4 separate regions of the Homo sapiens genome follow, and all the other regions are linked to region 2. Evidence: fine-mapped expression QTL. A gene starts in region 2. Each other region holds a variant in brackets. All regions are shown on one strand. Distances are from middle to middle. Region 1 overlaps UGGT2 (UDP-glucose glycoprotein glucosyltransferase 2). Region 2 holds the start of UGGT2 (UDP-glucose glycoprotein glucosyltransferase 2). Region 3 overlaps UGGT2 (UDP-glucose glycoprotein glucosyltransferase 2). Region 4 overlaps UGGT2 (UDP-glucose glycoprotein glucosyltransferase 2).

Region 1 (5,153 bases), 160 kb before region 2:
CAAATAACATTTGTATAAACACCAAAATCAAAGTGACAATATAAAAAATTAGCAAATTATTTCCATTAGAAAGTTTTACTTTGAAACATAAATCATAAATCATGATTTGAAACATAAATCATAAATCGTGATTTGAAACATAAATCATGATGCTTCCAAATACCATTTCAATCTGAATTCAATTTTGAAAGCAATGGTCTATATTTTTAAAAATCTTTTAATTTCAATTTTCTTTCACCTTCATCTATAAATTGTACTCTACACTATATAGACATGAATTACTTTATAAGAAAGCCATAAAATAGCAAAACCCAAGAGAAAAATCACATAAAAATCACATACTTACTATAATAATACCAACCAGTCTTCTTTTAACTGATACTGTATAAATGGTTAGGAGCCTAGCAAGGTCACCTATATTAACTTTAAACCAGTAACTACAAAGTTAGAAGCTGCCAAATTGCCACATACCTAATTTCTCAGAATGGCTCTCCCATCACAACCACTACTGACTCTACTACCATGAGCACTTTCTGAGGAAATTAGTACATAACAATCATTCTAACACCACGTACACAAAACCCTACTGTAGACTGACATAATCCTATGTACAAAACAATTATATTTAATGATAATCAGAAAACACGTCAACCAGATTATTTTTTTCTTGGTAAAAAGACCAGAATGTAATGGCTGTAGCCAGATTTTCTCACTTCCCCTTCACCTGCTCCTACAGTTCATCTTTTCTAAAAATTACTGAAGCATAGTTCTTGAATCTTTCTATCCCATTTTCTCATATCAAAGGTGACTAACTGGGATTTTGGCATCTCAACTAAATAAATATCATGTTTCACCTTAAATATAAAACACGGGCTCTTAAAAACACAAAAATGGGCACTATAATACTAAAAGTACTCATATAAACATTTCATTGTCTTAAGACGTGATATAATTTTTAAAGCAACTTTGAAAGCACATTCAATGTTACATTTCTGAACAATGAATCAGCAGTCTTGGAAAACAGTTGAATCTTATCTATACTACCTCTAGCGACAGGGGCAGTTTTGTTAGTAACATTAGAATAAGGAAATAAAATCTTAAAAGTATTGTTTTAAGGGGTTAACTACATTGGCTATCTTTACTGATTAAATTTACCAGAAAACTGGCTGTATTTTGCTTACATTAAGCACAGCATCAAACAGGAGAAACCTAATGTTTCTGTGTCTTGGTTCTATTTAAAGCTGAAAATTTGTGGAATAAAGTAACTTAAATAGCATAAAATCACATAATGTCCAAGTTGGGTAAAAGAACAATAAACTTGAAAATTATGTTGCTTAAATCTTCTTCATAACATTTGAGAAATGTGATTTTTCAGTTACATAGAATAATTGCTGTAACAGAAATGCATTACTTCATTTGACAGGTCATGAAAATTGCAGAAAACTCTGTCAGATTTTCATCCACATACTGAGCTAAAAATGTCTCTCTACTCACAGAAGTTTGATCAACTAGTTTTGATTTTATGCTAACTTTTAGCTAGTGTAACACAAATTAAGTCTACAAATGCCCATTATTTTTCATGATGCCCTTCAAATATTGAGAGAAAATAGCAGTTAATATTTACTGAAAATTTACTCTGTGTTTGGGTTCCTTCTATGTGCTTTAAATATAGGAGCATATTTAATCACCCCAACAATCCTGTAAGACAGATTATTATCATTCTCATTGTCCAAATGAAGAAATCAGGTCTCACAGTGTAATGTAATTAATGGTGCAACTGGAATTTGAATCCAGATCTGACTATAAAACAAAAAAAAGACCCTGCTTTTGTTCCCTACTCCCTGCTACCCCATGTCTTTCAGCAAACTGTGAATATGTAGTGTAATACAAATAAATATTATTATAACAATGGCATTATTTGTGGCATTAATATTAAATATGTCAATTTTAAATTATTCAGTGTTTTTAAGAAACTGTGTGATCATCATTGTACCCTAGTTGTTGATCATTTATAAACAATTTTAACTTTTCATATGTTCCAATTCTAATGGAAACATTTGAACAGGCTCAGAATGAAGATTTATACTAAAATATCATACTTATTTCAAGCATTAAACTATCTGATTCCAAATTTTTATAACATCTGCCACATTGCTGTGATTATTATGCTTAACAGCATTACTTTCAGAGTGATAAGCTAAGTATTACATTATCGCTCATAAACCACAGACTTATTTTCCAATATACTTTTCTATTAAAACCACAGTTATACAAATAAAAGGATAATTGAAATTACATTTTTCCATTAGTCAACAGAAAAAATCAACATAATTTGACTTAATATCTATCTCCAGCCCCAATCCTTCCTCTGTACTACACTCATATTCAATCACCTTCTTAACAAGTCTTTTTGGAGGTCCAAACTGAATTCTCTTTCCTTCTTCTTATACTGCTCCTGACAACCTCACTCATCCTGCAGCCTTCCTCACCTTGATCCACAGTAACTCCACTCTGCCAGTAACTTAGTTCTCTCACATCTCACACCAAAGTCCCTGGACAATTCCTGTCCATTCTTCACATAAAATACATCCCATATCCACTTCTTACTACCACCACTAGAACCATTCTGGTCCAAGCCACCATCATCTCTCATCTGGACTACTGCATTATCTCCCAACTGGCTCCCTGACCCCCTATTGTATATTCCCAATGTAACAGCCTCTAGTGATCCAAATAAAACATAAGCTAGATGATGCCAATCTCCTGCCCAGAACTATGCACTTCCCAACTCATTCAGAGTAAAGTGGGAGTCCTTAAACTTCCTATAAAACCCAATATGATCTGGCCCCCAGCTACTTCTCTGGCTTCTCTCCTGCCTGCTCTCTTCCTACCTGCTATTCTTAGAATAGCAGACATGATTCACAGGATTCACAGACATGAACTCACCTCACGTCCTTTGCATTCACTGTACTCTGTCTAGAACAATCCTCTTCCAGATATTTGAC[A/G]TGGCTTCCTCCTTCACCTTCTTTGGTTCTTTGCCCATATGACACTGCTATGAATGTGCTATGGTTTGAATGTCTTTGTCCTCTCCAAAATTTATGTTAAAACTGAATCCCCAATGCAACAGTGTTGGGAGCTGGGGCCTAATGGGAGGTGTTTAGGTCATGAGGGCTGTGCCTCAAAATGGACTAATGCCACTATAAAAAGGCTTTCAGGAGTGGGTTTGCTCTCTCCTGCCATGTAGGAACATAGCACTCATCCCCTTTTTGCCCCACTGCCTTCTGCCGTATGAGGATGCAGCAAGAAAGCTCCCATCAGATGCCAGTGCCTTGATCTTGGACTTCCCAGCCTCCAGAAGTATGAGAGAATAAATTTCTGTTCTTTAATAGATTTCTGAGATTATATAGTCTCAGGTATTTTGTTACAGCAGCACAAAACAGATTAAGACAAAACGTGTCCCTCAAAACCCATGTGTTGAAACTTAGTGGCCAGTGCGATAGCACTGAGAGGTGTGGCCTTTGGGAGATGATTAAGCCACGAGGGCTCTGCCCTCATGAATGGAATTTGTATCCTTATAATAAAAGAGTTCAAGACTGAAGGGAGCACTCTGTTGCCCTTCTACTTTCCACCATGTAAAAACAGAGCAACAAGGAGCCATCCTGGAAGCAGAGAGCAGCCCTCACCAGACATCCATGGCAGCACGTCAGCCTTACATTTCCAAGCATCCAGAAGTATAAGAAATAAATTTATGTTCTTTATAAATTAGCCAGTCTGTGGCATATTTTTATAGCAGCATAAACATACTTAAGATAGATGCCTTATCAGTAAGGGTGCTGTTTGTTGTCTCTCTCTATCCATCAAAATATTAGCCCCATGAAAACGTAGTTGTTTACTGCTGTGCCTTCAGAATCTAGAAGAATGTTTGGTTCACAGTAGGTGTAAGATTAATATCTTAATATTTTTATCAATTTTAAGGAAAGTCAGGACAAAACATAGTTTTATGTTTATGAGAAATAAGTTGAACATAACTGTATCTAGTATTTGTTATCATTAATGTCAATAACACTATATGAATTATATCAAAATGACAAGACATAGGATAGCTTTTCCCTAGTATATAACTAAAAGGTAAGGCACTAGATAAAACAGGTGCCATTGTTTCCCTCTTTATCCCTTAAAATGCTTGACATGGTCAAAGACAGCCAAAAGCTTTAGAACTGTTTTTAAAAGCTGTATTTCCTCCCAAAGTAACTTTTAAAGTGAAAAAGCAATGCCATTTACAGAGCTCTACATATCTCACTACCAAAATTCACCAATACTTTTTACAATAAATGGCAGCTTTTGACATGTGTAAAATAGCACTGTACATAGATGAACCTGAATCTAATATGCAGGTGAACAGAATTCAAAAGTAAGTGAAAAACAAAACATTAAGAGTGCATTAGAACTTTGAAGATGATTGAGGGATATATAATTTGAAAATTCAAGCCACAGATACGTGAAAAACACTGCATTTGTTGATTTCTTAATAAACCTAAGCACCAGATTCAGTTTTTTACTTAAACAATTTGTATGAAATAAGACTATCATATTAAAAATATTAGTATATAGATATCATCCACTTATTTTGTATGTGTCTACAAAGACTGCAATCAGAAAAACATTTATATTAACAGAAAAATCATGATGTAAAATTATATATAGTAGGATTATAAGGATGTATTCTAAAAAACCAAAAATGGCTATCTATGTATGGTAGAAAAAAGGGCTGAAAGGAAAAACAATAAGCTATTAAGTTTTATTAGGGTGGTTGGAGAGTAAGAGATTTTCTTCCTACAGCCTTGTAAATATTTTATTAATAAATACTACATGGCAATTTATACTACTTGATACTTCAAAACTGAAAATAGTATCTAATGCCATTTAACATACACAACTGTAGGAACAAGAAGAAAGATGTCATAACCTACTTGCTACACCTACTACAACAGTGGTTCTAATGACAATGTTTTGAAGATGTGCATTAAGTTGTTCCTTCTAATACTTACATTAGAACAAAATAAAAGCAAGACACATAAAGAACATTCTTCCTTACCCACATCATCATTCTCATTAAATGGGGGAAAGAATGAAGGAATGGGAAGTGTGTCATG
Region 2 (5,153 bases):
GAGAAAATTTTTGCAATCTACCCATCTGACCAAGGGCTAATATCCAGAATCTACAAAGAACTTAAACAAATTTACAAGAAAAAAATTAAACGACCCCATCAAAAAGTGGGTGAAGGATATGAACAGACACTTCTCAAAAGAAGACATTTATGCAACCAACAGACACATGAAAAAATTCTCATCATCACTGGCCATCAGAGAAATGCAAATCAAAACCACAATGAGATACCATCTCACACCAGTTAGAAGGGCGATCATTAAAAAGTCAGGAAACAACAGGTGCTGGAGAGGATGTGGAGAAATAGGGACACTTTTACACTGTTGGTGGGACTGTAAACTAGTTCAACCATTGTGGAAGACATTGTGGCGATTCCTCAAGGATGTAGGACTAGAAATACCATTTGACCCAGCCATCCCATTACTGGGTATATACCCAAAGGATTATAAATCATGCTGCTATAAAGACACATGCACACACATGTTTATTGCGGCACTATTCACAATAGCAAAGACTTGGAACCAACCCAAATGTCCGTCAATGATAGACTGGATTAAGAAAATGTGGCACATATACACCACGGAATACTATGCAGCCATAAAAAAGGATGAGTTCATGTCCTTTGTAGGGACATGCATGCAGCTGGAAACCATCATTCTCAGCAAACTATCACAAGGATAGAAAACCAAACACCTCATGTTCTCACTCATAGGTGGGAACTGAACAATGAGAATACTTGGACACACAATGGGGAACATCACACACCAGGGCCTGTTGTGGGGTTGGGGGAGCGGGGGATAGCATTAGGAGATACACCTAATGTAAATGATGAGTTAATGGGTGCAGCACACCAACATGGCACATGTATATCTATGTACCTGCACGTTGTGCACATGTACCCTAGAACTTAAAGTATAATAATAAAAAAAATAGCTGGGACTTAATTAAACTAAACAGCTTTTGCACGGCAAAAGGAATAGTCAGCAGAGTAAACAGACAACCCACAAAACGGGAGAAAATCTTCACAATCTATACATCTGAAAAAGGATTAATATCCAGAATCTACAAGGAACTCAAATCAGCAGGAAAAAAAAAACAGTCCCATCAAAAAGTGGGCTAAGGACATGAATAGACAATTCTCAAAAGATATATAAATGGCTAACATGAAAAAATGCTCAACATACTAATGATCAGGGAAACACAAATCAAAACCACAATGCGATACCACCTTACTCCTGCAAGAATGGCCATAATAAAAAAATAAAAATAAATAATAGATGTTGGCGTGGATGCAGCGAACAGGGAACACTTCTACACTGCTGGTGGGAATGTAAACTAGTATAACCACTATGGAAAACAGTGTGGGGAGTCCTCAAAGTACTAAGAGTAGATCTACCATTTGATCCAGCAATCCCACTACTAGGTATCTACCCAGAGGAAAAGAAGTCATGAAAAAGATAGTTGCACAAGTATGTTTATAGCAGCACAATTCACAAGTGCAAAAATGTGGAACCAATCCAAATACCCATCAATCAACGAGTGGATAAACTGTGGCATATATATGATGGAACACTACTCAGCCATAAAAAGGAATCAATTAATGGCATTCACAGCAACCTGGATGAGATTAGAGACTATTATTCTAAGTGAAGTAAGTCAGAAATGGAAAACCAAATATAGTATGTTCTCACTGATATGTGGGAACTAAGCTATGAGGATGCAAAGGCATAAGATTGACACAATGGACTTCGGGGACTCGGGGGAAAGGTTGAGAAGGGAGTGAGGGATAAAAGACTACAAATTGGGTGCAGTGTATATACTGATGGGGTGATGGGTGTACCAAAATCTCAGAAATCACCACTAAAGAACTTACTCATGTAACCAAACACCACCTGTTCCCCAATAAACTATAGAAATGAAAAAAAAAAAGAACTTTTAGCATCAAATACATGAACTTATGTGGAGTCATGGAGTCTCTTTTTAGGGACACACACTGTTGCTGTGGTGAACAGCCATTAAGTCATTGGTGTAAAACTTCATTTTTGCTAAGAGAAAGAACTTTCTAATTTTACTCAACTAGAATACTAAAGGGCAAAATGCAATAGCTACAAGTTTTGTTCTGCAGAGTAAATGACAGGTCATGAACTAATTCCGTTGGAAGAGATACAGGAAAAATATTACCTTGCAGGAAGCTGCCCTCCCCATAGTAAGCCTAGGAGCTGATGGTATGATGTCATCATTACGAAACTAGGTACTTTAAGCACTGTCTGAACAGAACTGCCTACCCCAGTAGAAGCTCTTGCGTTAAGTGCCACGCGTAAATGCTAATACATCCCAACGTATTAAAGCAGGGCAGGGAAGCTTTAAAAATCGTAGGTAAAGTAAGACTGAGGGGGAAAGGAACTGCAAGTGAGTGCTGCACGGGAACCGAGAAGCCGCCCCGGGTCGGGAAGGAAGGAGGTGGTGATGCTCAGGGCCAGAGCGGGGGCGTCTGGAGAACCCGGGTGGGAGCCAGACACCCGCTGCGAGCACGAAGAAAGCGCGGCTGAGGGTGGCAGCGCGCCCACACCCGCCCGGACGAGGGCCCGGCCCGCACCCACCTTGCCTCCAGCAGCAGCGGGGTCTCGGGCCACTTCGCGGCCAAGTGGGCAGTCACCGACTTGGACGCGGCGACCGTCCCGGAGCCGAGCTGCGAAAGCCACAGCGCTGTGGAGCCTAGTAGCAGCCGCACCACGTTCGTGGCTTTCGCTGGCGCCATGGCACGGAGAGAAAAGCGCGAGTCCCTCGGACCCGGTACCCACAGTCTGTGGCCGCCACGCTTCGGCCGGCTCTTCCCGCTGCGCGGCTGCCCACTTCCGGTGGGAGGAGCTCGAGTCCGTTACTGGGTGCCGGGTCCAGACCGGCGCATGCGTGTCCCGCTCCGGCGCGGTTTAGTGGGTGCGGCCTGGAGAGCCCACGCCAGCCGGACACTGGGCCACGTCGGAGCCGCCGGGGCGGCGCCGGGTTGCTGAGCGGCGTCACAGATGCTCCCGCGGGTCCGCTCCCGCGGGTCCATTCCCAGGACTTTGGGTTCTCGGACAGAGGCCTTAGGACACGGGGCGGGAAGCTGGCTCTCCAGACCGAACTAGGGCTCTGGAGTTGCCAAAATCTGGAAGCAAAGTCAGGACCACTTGCATATTGTCCACCTTTTACATAGGAGGAAAATAAGTCCAGTTAAAGTTGAAGTCCCCACCTCACGCAGTTCTCAAGTGTTACTACAGGTTGGAATCACCTGGGAGAGCTTTTATAAGGCCGCCGCCAAGGCCACGCCCCGTACCTGAGAATCTCGGGAGGGGGGGTGAGATGCGGCATCAGTAGTATTAGTTAAAATCCGCAGGCCGGGCGCGGTGGCTCACGCCTGTAATCCCAGCACTTTGGGAGGCCGAGGCGGGCGGATCACGAGGTCAGGAGATCGAGACCATCCTGGCTAAAACGGTGAAACCCCGTCTCTACTAAAAATACAAAAAATTAGCCGGGCGTAGTGGCGGGCGCCTGTAGTCCCAGCTACTTGGGAGGCTGAGGCAGGAGAATGGCGTGAACCCAGGAGGCGGAGCTTGCAGTGAGCCGAGATCCCGCCACTGCACTCCAGCCTGGGCAACAGAGCGAGACTCCGTCTCAAAAAAAAAAAAAAAAAAAAAATCCGCAGGTGATTCCAGTGTCCAATCATGTTAGGAAACCCGTGACTTACGGGTGGCTCTCAAACTTTAACCACTTGCTTGTTAAAACACTGCAGAGTGGTGGGCCTCCCCACAGTGTTTCGGATTCAGTAGAGCCCTTGCGGGGGCCGAGAACTTGCATTTTATTTCTCCCAAGTTCGCAGATAATACTAGTGGCTAGAAATCACACTGGAGCCTTTTCCATTGGAAGGTGTGGTCCAGGGTAGGCTTCAGCTGTGAGCTCAATGGAAATGCAGAAGCTCAGGCCCCGCCCCAGACCTAATGAATCAAGATCTCCAATTTAACGGGAACCACAGGTGATTCCTATGCACAGGAAAGGTGGAGAAGAGTGATTTAGAGGATTACATTTAAAAGTGCACAGAAAAGTGCCAATAAGCCTGAGCATGGTGGCTCACGCCTGTAGTCCCAGCACTTTGGAAGGTCGAGGCGGGAAGGTAGCTTAAGCCGAGGAGGTAGAGGCTGCAGAAAACGGTGATTGCGCCACTGCCCTCCAACCTGGGCGAAAGAGGGAGACCGTGTCTCAAAAAAACAAACAAACAAAAGGCCAATACGTGATAGTTGTTTTGTCAGAGTAAAATATATGGTAAAAGAGTTTAGCGGATGCACGGATTCATTGCTTTTTTTCTCTCCTGTTACTCCTTTGCCCTGCAGGGAAGCTGGATCTCTTGAAGTTGCGGAAACATAGTCATTCCCTTTTTTCGTTTCATTTGCTTAGTCAGTACCCTTCCTTAGAAAACCCTATTCCGCTAAGCAGTTCCACGAATTTCCAGAATAATTTCTCACTTCCAAAGTTTAGCCTTCATTTCCTGATTTATCCTACTTGGTATGATCTATCCTTACTTTAAATTTCCTCTTTATTGTAACTGCCATATAGCACTTAAGTTCTCACTTTAATACTTGAGTACGCTACTTACTTATTTCTCCTGTGAGAGATAGTATATTCCCCCAGAACTCATGCCTTGTTCATCTTTGGCATCCCGTGCAGTACCTAGCACAATACTTCACATTCACATGTTATTTGGGGACTCCATGAAGATTGAAGAACCCTTGCTTTATGGAAAGAATGTAGAAAGCTAAGGCAAATGCACTTCATTTCTATCCATAGTGTATACGAGAAAAATACATTACGAATCTTTCACAATTATTTGCTTTAATTAACTCCCCATTTCCACTCATATTTAGACCGAAATTTTTATTGAGATTGTGGGATTAAGGAAATAAAATATTGACAGTGAATGTCTTACATGTCAGCATATCCAATGGACTGCAAATCTTTAAGAAATAATTGGCCATATAAAAGGCACATTAAATAGACTATTAAAGGACACTAATAAAATGTATATTAGTAAAAATTTCACTATATGTGAGTTCAGAATAGTGAGAATGCTCATTTCTCTTTTAAAGAGAATAAAATTAATCTAATCTAGGCCATCTATGAA
Region 3 (5,153 bases), 95 kb before region 2:
ACAAGACACGGCCAGGAGAAATGTGCTCAGAGTTTAGCCCCACACTCTTTCCCTCAACCAGGTACACATGGGCAGTAGAGGGTTTGGTTAGAGGGTCAAGCCTCCCTAAGTTTTCAGTTTTCAAAGCGCTCAAACAGGGCTGCTGCATATTATTGTTCATTTTTTGTGCATACTTCTTCATTTTAAGATAAAGTCTATAAAGTGATATTTCTTTTGAACTTTAGGAAATGTTTAAACAGATGCAGTAAATGTAACTAAGTAATATGATGTCACAGTTACAAGCATGAGTTCAAATAACCTTTTAGTGTCTCAGTTTCTTCATCTGTATAATGGGGATGCTATCAATACCTAATAGGGTCGCTGTGCAAATAAAATGAGATAATTCATTTTAAATGCTGAACATAGTATCTGGCACTCTGCTCAATAAATTTAAGCCACTGTTGTTAGTAAAAGGCAATCACAAAGCAGAGCAGGAAATAAAATTTAACGACAAGCTAAAACAATCTTGATAAAGAAGTATAAAGTTGGAGAACTCACACCTCTTGATTTCAAAACTGACTATAAAGCTACAGTAATCAAAACAATGTGGTACTAGAATAAGGACAGACATACAGATCAGTGGAATAGACTAGACAGCCCAGAAATAAATCTGCATTTATGATCAACTGATATCTGACAAGGGTGCCAAGCAAAGGTAACCAAAAAAAGGTGGAATTCATAAAAATTAAAATTTTGTTGTACATCAAAGGACACTACTAACAGTCAAAAGGCAACCTACAGAATGGGAATAAATATTTGCAAATCATATATCTGATAAGGAATTAATATCCAGAATATATAAAGGACTCCTACAACTCAACAAAAAACAAAGAACCCAATTTAAAATGGGCAAAGGACTTGAATAGATATTCCTCTAGAGAAGATATACAAATGGCCAACAGGTATTATGAATCAATGCTCAACATCACTAGTCATTAAGGAAATGTAATGAGAACCACAATGAGATACCAGTTCACACTCATTAGGATGGCAATTGCCACAAAGCAAAACATGCCAAAACCAGAAAATAACAAGAATTGGTGAGGATGTGGAGAAATGGGAACACTTGTGAACTGACAGTGGTAATGACAAATGATGTAACAGCTGTGAAAAACAGTTTGGCAGTTTGTCAAAAAAGTTAGACACAGAAATACCATATGATTCAGCAATTCTACTTCTAGGTATATACCCACAAGAACTGAAAGCAGAGATTCACACAGGTACTTGTACATCAAAGTTCATAGCACAGCATTATTCACAATAGCCAAAAGTTAGCAGCAGTGTAAATGTCCAACAGATGAATGGATAAACAAACTGTGGTATATACATTCAATGAAATATTATTCAGTCTTAAAAAGGAACAAAATTCTGATACATGCTACAACATGGATGAACCCTGAAAATATTATGCTAAGTGAAATTAGCCAGACACAAAAGAATATTGTATAATTCCACTTATATGAAATATCAATAGGCAAATTAATAAAGACAGAAAGTAGATAGAGCTTACCAGAGTCTTCAGGAAGAAGGGTATGGGGATTTAATGTTTAATGTGAACAGAGCTTCGTTCGGGATAATGAAAAAGTTCTGAAAATAAATGGTGGTGATGGTTGTACAACACTGTGAATGTACTTAATGCCACTGAATGGTTAAAAGAGCAAATTTTATGCCATGTATATCTAACCTGAATAAAAACTACTTTGTGACAATCTCGTGGGAACACAACCTTTATGGAGGGTGGGTTCCAAAACCAGCTATACTCCTTATGGACTGGAATTCCTGGGGTTTGGGGCCTGTGGTAGTCTTGACAAATTAGCAGTCTTATCAGTGCTTATGAAGAGATAGTCTGCTGAAAGCAGCAGGGTGGCAGAGAAGGGAGGCACACCGTCTGAGACTGATATCTGAAAGCTTGCCAGAATCTGAGAGACAACTCAGGGAAATGGGGCTTTGCAGAGTGTGGGGACAATGGGAGCAGCATAAGGGCTTAAAAGTCCAACTGCTCCTCCACACACAGAGTGACTGTCCTTCACTGCCAACCTTAGAAGCAAGCTAGGATATTATTTTACAAAGAGAATAGGAAGGTTTCTTTATAGGTCTGTTTACTATGTCTAGAAGAGCCTTGACAATTACTGCACTAATTTTCTGTGTGACTCTCTCTCAGCATTCTTTTCTACAAAAGCTAAAAAGCACAAATTCTTAAATATCAGATACAAGTATTAAGATTACTTACAAGGTCATTCCTTTTTCTGACATAACATTTTTAGAAAAGACATCTGCTATTGAGATTAAAGACAAAGTAAAAGTAAAATCTAGCCAATGAAAGAATACGGTCTAAAGAGTGGTAGAAAACAGTAACAAACATCTATATAACAAGTCACTTCGTGTTCTAGAAAACACAAATGATAACTACTTAGTAATTTGTTATTTATCCTGAATCTGAAGTTTCTGATGTTCAGGGAATATGGCGTTTCTTTCGGGCTGCTATAGTCCTTTGGCTCTGAGAAGGCAGAATTTTTTTTTTTTTTAAGACAGAGTCTTGCTCTGTCGCCCAGGCTGGAATGCAGTGGCACGATCTTGGCTCACTGCAAGCTCCGCCTCCTAGGTTCATGCCATTCTCCTGCCTCAGCCTCCCGAGTAGCTGGGACTACAGACGCCCGCCACCATGCCCGGCTAATTTTTTGTACTTTTAGTAGAGACGGGGTTTCACCGTGTTAGCCTGGATGGTCTCCATCTCTCGACCTCATGATCCACCCGCCTAGGCCTCCCAAAGTGCTAGGATTACAGGCGTAAGCCTCCACGCCTGGCCAAAGGCAGGTAGTTTATGAGCAGGAAGGTTTTTCAAGTAAGGCAAAACTAACTATAATAACTGAGATGCTTCAGAGAGAATCCCTTACATTTTTATATAAAACAAT[C/T]AGCAAAAATTTCAGAGAGGATTTTTCCCCTTAAGATCTTTTTTTTTTTTTTTTTTAAGAAGGGGCTTCAAGATGGCTGAATAGATGTATCTGCTACTTGCCTCTTCCATGGAAAGGAACCAATATAGTAAGCAGATAATCACACTTCGAATAGGTCGTCTAAGGGAGCACACTGGAATTCACCAGAGAAGTGACAGGAGTACCCGAAAGCAAGAAAGGAGAGGGAAATAAGGCAGACTGCTAGGCTGGGATTGGCTGGAAGCCTAGAGAGGTTCCCTAATGCAAGGAAAGTGTAAGTGAGAGACCCTCAGCAGTCCACGTTTCCACTACGGACTCCTACCAACCTAACCATGGAAAAGCCCCTTCACCCTTATGGGCTTCTGAGACTAACAGAGGGAGCTACCTGGAGATTGCACAATGCCACTGATCCAGAGAGGGAGCTCATGCCCAGTCCCACAAACCCCTGAGTCCTAAGCCACTGCAGTATGGCATCATTTTGAGAGCCCAGCTCCCACAGACTGTGTCCTGCCCTGGGGCCTAACAGCCCCCGCATCTCCATATCTCTGGGGTCCCACTGACATTCCCTGCTAGGGCCAAGGCAGAACCACTGGCAGTCACACTGCCTCCCCAGCAGAGGGACAATCACACATTTCCATGCACCTGAGGACAAATTCCATTTGCTGCAAACTGTGTGTGTGTGTTTTGGGGTGGGGGGACATAGGATGAGCAAAGCATGCCCCAGCCACCTGCCTCCAATTGCTCCTGTTGAAAGTGACTTCACCCTCTCCAGTAGCAGAACAGCAGCACAGCTGCTGCTGCTGCCTCTACCTGAGCATCCACCTATGGCCGGTGGATCATCCCGCTCCCCTGCTGCCCACCAACCATAGCCAGAGCCTGAATGTACCAACATGGGGCCTAAGAACCATCTTGCCTGGTTCTATCACCCCCAGTACCTAAGCATGCTGTCCAGGGACGTGGGGATCACCCAGCACAATCCATTACCATTGGCATCTGAGCACACCTCCCAGTGTCATGCCCACCCAACCTGCCACTACCATCACCTCAGGGCCTGGGCAATGGCTGACCCAGCCCATCACAGCTACTGCCAACACTGGCATGGACCCTTAGGTCCTAGAGAATTGTCCCGCCACTTACTGCCATTGCCCGTGCCACAACCACTGCTCAGGTGCTCAAGAACCTACCTACCACTGTCATTCCCAGCACCCAAGCAAGTCATCTAGAGGCCCAAGAATCAACCTCCCTGCACCTGCTAACACTGGTGCTAGTGTACACCACCCTGGGGGCCAAGGCTCAACCCACCATCGCCACCCATAGGGCCCTAAGTCTGGCCCAACTGGTGTCCCACATTTCAGCAAAACTTCATCACAGCCTCCACTAGCAACTGTGCTACAAGCCACCTAGCAAACAGAGACACCACTGATGCTGTTTACAGATGAAGAAATCATACAGAGATTACCCTACTGCACACATTGAGAATCAATGCCAAAAAGTGTACTATGCAACTAACACCATAAATGGTCAGGAAAAAGTCTTCCCCTAACAATGGAAATTTTTAAAAAATGGAATAAGTAACTGTTACACCAGATGCACAGATGTCAACGTAAGGACACAGGAACATAAGCAATCTCCAAAGGAACACAATAATTCTCCAGCAACAGATCCCAATCTAAAAGACATTTATGAAATCCCAGAAAAACAATTCAAAATATTGAAATTAAGCTCAGTGAGCTATAAGAGAATACTTTAAAACAATCCAAAAATATCAGAAAAACAATTCAGGAAATAAGTGAGAAATTTACCAGAACCAAATAGAAAATTCATTGAATGACATGTAAAATGTATTGAAAAGCTTCAGCAGTGGACTAAATCAAGTAGAATCAAGAATCTCAGAATTTTAAGACAAGACTTTTGAAATATCCCAGTCAAATAAAAATACATACAAAAAAGAATAAGCAAAGCCTATGTGACATATGAGACACCATAAAGTGACCAAATATTTGAATTTTGCTGTCCCAGAAGATTAAAAAAAAAGTATTAGAAAACCTATTTAATGAAATAACAGAAAAAGACTTCCCAAGTCTAATGAGATTTAGATATCCAAATACAGGAGGCACAGAGATTCCCAAATAGATACAATTCCAAAAGGTTTTGCCCATGGCAAATTATAGTCAAACTGTCAAA
Region 4 (5,153 bases), 50 kb before region 2:
ACATGTTGACTAGATTTACATTATAGTTATTTTGAACATAAAAGATGTCATTCATTAAATATAAGGCTATAATTTGATGTTACTAAATGCCCAGATAGTTAATATGATTTCACAGAAGCACACTTAATGGTCACATTCTCTATGTCAGGCCTCTGAGCCCAAACCCAAGCCAAGCCATCGCATCCCCTGTGACTTGCACGTATATGCCCAGATGGCCTGAAGTAACTGAAGAATCACAAAAGAAGTGAAAATGCCCTGCCCCACCTTAACTGATGACATTCCACCACAAAAGAAGTGAAAATGGCCGGTCCTTGCCTTAAATGATGACATTACCTTGTGAAAGTCCTTTTCCTGGCTCATCCTGGCTCAAAAAGCTCCCCCACTGAGTACCTTGCGACCCCCACTCCTGCCCTCCAGAGAACAAACCCCCTTTGACTGTAATTTTCCTTTACCTGCCCAAATCTTATAAAACGGCCCCACCCCATCTCCCTTCGCTGACTCTCTTTTCGGACTCAGCCCGCCTGCACCCAGGTGAAATAAACAGCCTTGTTGCTCACACAAAGCCTGTTTGGTGGTCTCTTCACACGGACGCGCATGAAACTCTAAATAATAACTTGAGACAGATTCTCACAACAGATGGGCATAGCTCCCCAGGGGCATGTTAGAACCACTTGGGAGAACATTTAAAAAAGACAAACACAGACAATTAACAACAACAAGGTTCATTGCACAGGTTTACTTACAGATTTTCTTATAAATTTTTACAAGAAACAGATATTTTATAGATATCTACTTTTATAGACAGTTACTTATAGATTTTCTCCCACCTTGCCACCTGAAACAGCAAGTCCAGCCTCTCCTCTTCCATTTCCTCCTCAGCCTACTCAACATGACTATGAGGATAAAAACCTTTATGATGATCCACTTCTATTTAATGAAAAATATATTTTCTCTTCCTTATGACTTTCTTAATAACATTACTTATCTAGCTTACTCTACTGTAAGAATTACAGAATAATACATGTGACATGAAAAATATGTGTTAATTGACTGTTTCTGTTATCAGTAAGGCATCCAGTCAACAGTAGGTTATTACTACTTAAGTTTTAGTGGAGTCCAAAGTTATACATATATTTTTTAACAACATGAGGGGTCAGTATCTCTAACTCACACATGCTTAAGGGTAAACTGTACTTGTATCTCCCACTCCCGTTCCTATTCTCATTTGCCTCTCAGCTCTGCCTTATCTGACAGAGAATCATAGTCTTAAGGTGCTACTGTTATTGATGGTAATGTATCCATCCTTCTAGCAAACTCAGTTGGGAAAAATTGAGAATTCTTGGCATAAGATGATTAGACAATATAAAATGTTTTGAGTGCACACTCTAGACCCATGACTCTCTGTCCTCTTCTTTTATATTTATCTTTTCTGAAAACACTTTCATCACCATCTAACATAAATCTGTTTTACATCTCTTGCCACTAAAATTGAAGTTCTCTGAGAATAAGGAATGTTTCTCTCTTATTCACTGCTACATGAACCAATGCCTGGCACAGAGGCATCCAAATATTTATGAAATTAATGACTTAAATATGTAATCATTTACAAACTGTACACACACCCACACTTTCTCTTTACATCTCACTTTACAGATAATCTTTATGTAGATTATGCAAATATCTATATGCCAACACACTCAAGAATATTTAAGATTTTCCACTTTTACTAAATAGCAATAACTAACTCAAAATTATACAATGAACAATTAAAATTGAGAATGTGAAGAACACTGAGGGAAAAAACACATTTTATATGATGTTATTGTAGGGCAAGTCCCCAAAAGATCTTGGCAACCCAGCTCTTCCTCGCTTTCTCACTTGTAAATCTCAGAATAACTGTAGAATGATGTGCTGGAAATGCAAGAAATATGAAGGAATTGCCAGTAAAGCCAAGCTCTGTTCCCATAGCTCCTAGAACAGGATGTCTTGCAATGCTTTAGCACAGCTCATCAAGTTGCTCCTAGGTATAAAACCCAGGGCAGAGCAGGCTTTCAGAGTTCCT[T/C]AGCTGCGGTGCAACATGAATGACGTGCACGTGAGACTCCATCCATCCTGGACAGCTATCCTAAGCTTTGGGGGATGAGCTTGCCATGAATCCTTAGGTGTCTATTGTCCCTTGCTGCCTGTCTGTGAGTAATAAAGTTGCTTCCCTAAACTTATTGTGTGTTCTGTCTCACCAGACTCATGCCAGTGGATTGATACTGGTACACAGTATTGGCAAGGTGTTTACAGTCCTCCCCTGGGATTGATACCAGTGCACAGTGAACCTGCATCATAAAATTATCAAATATATAAAACAAAATTAAGATACTGAAATAAGCTACTTATCTTCTATCACCAGTACTAAGCACAGTGCCCAAATTACAGGCATTTGTGGAAGATTATTATAAAGGCCACAAATGAGTAACTCCTTCCCATGTCCAGACTCCTTTGCAATGTGACCTTGCTACTTCTCACCAGGAAATTGAGTCTATTTTTCCATTCTTTTGAATCTGGCTGGCCTTGTGACTTGCTTTGACTAACACAAGGTGGCAGAAGTATCACTGTATGAGTTCTTGGGCATAGGGCTTAAGAGGTATTGCAAGTTCTACTCTTTTCTTTTTGGGACCCTAAGCCATCATGATGTGAAGAATCATAGTCTAACTCTTGGAAGATGAAAGGCCATGTAGAAAAAGACAAGAAACTCCAGCTATCAGCCTGAACTGCCACACAGGTCTGTCAGAATAATTTGAATCCCCAAGCTCTAATCTAGTACTGAATGACCCTCACTGCATGAACAATACCAGCAGAAAAAGTGCCCCGACTGTCAACCCACAGAATAAAGAGAAACAGTAAGTCAATATTTCCTTAAGCCACTAAATTTTGAGAAGATTTGTTACAAAGCAATTCAGACACAGACACAGCATCTAATAAATGTGCATGGAGGAAAGAAAGAAGGAAGAGATGACAGATTCCTCTAACAAATTTCTAATTCAAAGAATACCTAGTTTCCTCATAAATAGTAGTAACTTAAGAGATTTTCATCCTCTACAATCATATATTACTGCTTTCAGAAGTTATAAGATAGCTTCAATCAGCACTAAGAAACTTAAATTTTGGATTCCCCATGTAAGCAGCAAAGCTATCCCCAGGTAAGCAGCAAAGCTATGGTATCTAAGCAACTCTAGGAAAAAAAAAAAAAACATATTTGTTTTTAAAATTTTTTATTTTTAATTATTATGGATACAGAAAAGTTGCACATATTTATGGGGTATATGTTATAATTTGATACAAACATACAAAATGTAATGATCAAATCAGGGTATTTGGGATATCTATCACCTCAAACATTTTATTATTTCTTTGTGTTAGGAACATTCCAATTTTTGAAGTCAGGGAGACAGAGACTAGAATGATGGTAGTTACCAGAAGATGGAAAAACTAGTGGGGATGTGGGGATTAAGAGGGGATGGTTAATGGGTATAAAAATACAGTTAGGAAGAATAACATCTAGTGTTCAGCAGCACAATCGAGTGACTATGGTTAATAATTTATTGTTTTAGGGTACATGTGCACAATGTGCAGGTTAGTTACATATGTGCAGGTTAGTGTATACATGTGCCATGCTGGTGCGCTGCACCCACTAACTCGTCATCTAGCATTAGGTATATCTCCCAATGCTATCCCTCCCCCCTCCCCCCAAAGTATAATAATAATAAATGAAAAAAAGAACAGAAAAAAATGTAATAAAACCAAAAAAATAATTTATTGTATGTTTCAAAACAAGGAAAAATAATTTTATAAGCATTGTATCCTTATTAAACAGCCACCTAGTTATGACCTCCTCTCTCAGAACTAGAATGTCTCATCTTTCTCTTTCTTCAGTGGACAGATATCAGAGGGCCTCAGAATCATATGCTATATATTCCCAACCAATGTGCCAGATCTAACGAAGAAAGATCTCTAGGAGTGACAGCACTTTATTATTTAAAAGAACACTCCAATTGGTGTTGGGGTAGAGAATGAGACTGATAATGGAAAACAAAATAATCTTCAACTTTATTTTTAAAGTTTTATTACTTCAATTAAAAAATAAACTTGAAAAGATAAAATGTTAGCTGTCAATTCTGGGTAGCATATACAAAAAGTTTATTATTTTTAGGCTTTTTGTATTAGAAAATTTTCTGAAGAAAAAATAAAGCAGAAGGAACGAGAATGATAACAGAAGAAAAAGGCACCTGTGGGAAGGTGAACATTTGAATACCCAGGACAGATACCACCAAATGCTAGTGAAGCTGGTAAAGATATTTAGCTAGAAATCTATAAAGCTTGCTAAAGGCTAAATGTGGGCTAACGTGAGAGTGTGAAGCCCCTGGTAGCTCCAGACATAGCAAGGCTGAAACCCTCTTGCACAGGGAAGACTGGGGAAGGTCCTGAGAAAGCTTCCACTCTAATGGTGACAGGTAGAGAGGAAAGAAAAATCACTGCTGAAATCCACTTCAGACCTATCTCCCCTATAGAACCAAAGCCTTAATCTTCAGAGGCAAGGGCAACAAAATTGTAGCTATATAGTGTACTGGTGGAAGCCCACTGAAGACGGGAGAAATGGAACAGATGAAAGTCTTAGTCTGAAGGAAGGACGGGAATACCTGCCAGGCCCAACATTCTGAGAGAGGATCAGAAACCTTGAGGCCCAAATTTACAGTATGCCTAGAAAGGAAACTTAATTGGAACATCAGAGAATATCCCCTTCCTTAGCTGCCCCCTCACCTTCACCTCAAGGCCAATCTAACAAGGGTTGAGTAAAGATAACGCTGAAATACAGGTGGGAAAGCTATAAGAAACACATTGTCTTTGGGGAGCTGTACAAAGGGAAGATCCAAATCTAAGTGGGGAGACCTAAAGCCAAGTGGAACACAAACGTGAAACCCAACCCAACTCCTGACCAGAACACCTCAATCCTGCATACATGAAAGGCATGGCCTAAACTAAAGGCAGGGTCAAGGCTCCTACACAAAATGTTGAGCTTTTAATAACAACGAAAATCACAAGATGTCCAAGAAGTCAATGGAACAAAAGTCTGAAGAGACAAATCAATCAACAATTTCAAAATCAGA

The links. PIP is the estimated chance that this variant, and not a neighbour inherited with it, causes the effect.
Region 1: its variant is fine-mapped to the expression of UGGT2 in whole blood (TOPMed, PIP above 0.99). The same link has a PIP of 0.9 or more in esophagus mucosa, ileum, pancreas, spleen, subcutaneous fat and sun-exposed skin.
Region 3: its variant is fine-mapped to the expression of UGGT2 in blood mononuclear cells (TOPMed, PIP 0.93). The same link has a PIP of 0.9 or more in tibial artery.
Region 4: its variant is fine-mapped to the expression of UGGT2 in lung (TOPMed, PIP 0.92).

The regions. Positions count from the first base shown.
Region 1 is chr13:95,895,495-95,900,647 of GRCh38, forward strand. All of the region lies in intron 22 of UGGT2 (UDP-glucose glycoprotein glucosyltransferase 2), which reads right to left. Among named protein-coding and RNA genes, the nearest start is that of UGGT2, 160 kb to the right of the region's middle. The variant A/G (reference allele first, on the strand shown) is at 3,006.
Region 2 is chr13:96,050,557-96,055,709 of GRCh38, forward strand. UGGT2 (UDP-glucose glycoprotein glucosyltransferase 2) reads right to left here and starts at 2,845. Exons shown (of 39, transcript NM_020121.4): 1 at 2,599-2,845. The coding sequence starts at 2,756. RefSeq lists an enhancer at 2,607-3,106.
Region 3 is chr13:95,955,606-95,960,758 of GRCh38, forward strand. All of the region lies in intron 12 of UGGT2 (UDP-glucose glycoprotein glucosyltransferase 2), which reads right to left. Among named protein-coding and RNA genes, the nearest start is that of UGGT2, 95 kb to the right of the region's middle. RefSeq lists enhancers at 3,488-3,989, 3,990-4,489. The variant C/T (reference allele first, on the strand shown) is at 2,952.
Region 4 is chr13:96,000,952-96,006,104 of GRCh38, forward strand. The region is part of intron 5 of UGGT2 (UDP-glucose glycoprotein glucosyltransferase 2); the gene reads right to left. Among named protein-coding and RNA genes, the nearest start is that of UGGT2, 50 kb to the right of the region's middle. The variant T/C (reference allele first, on the strand shown) is at 2,063.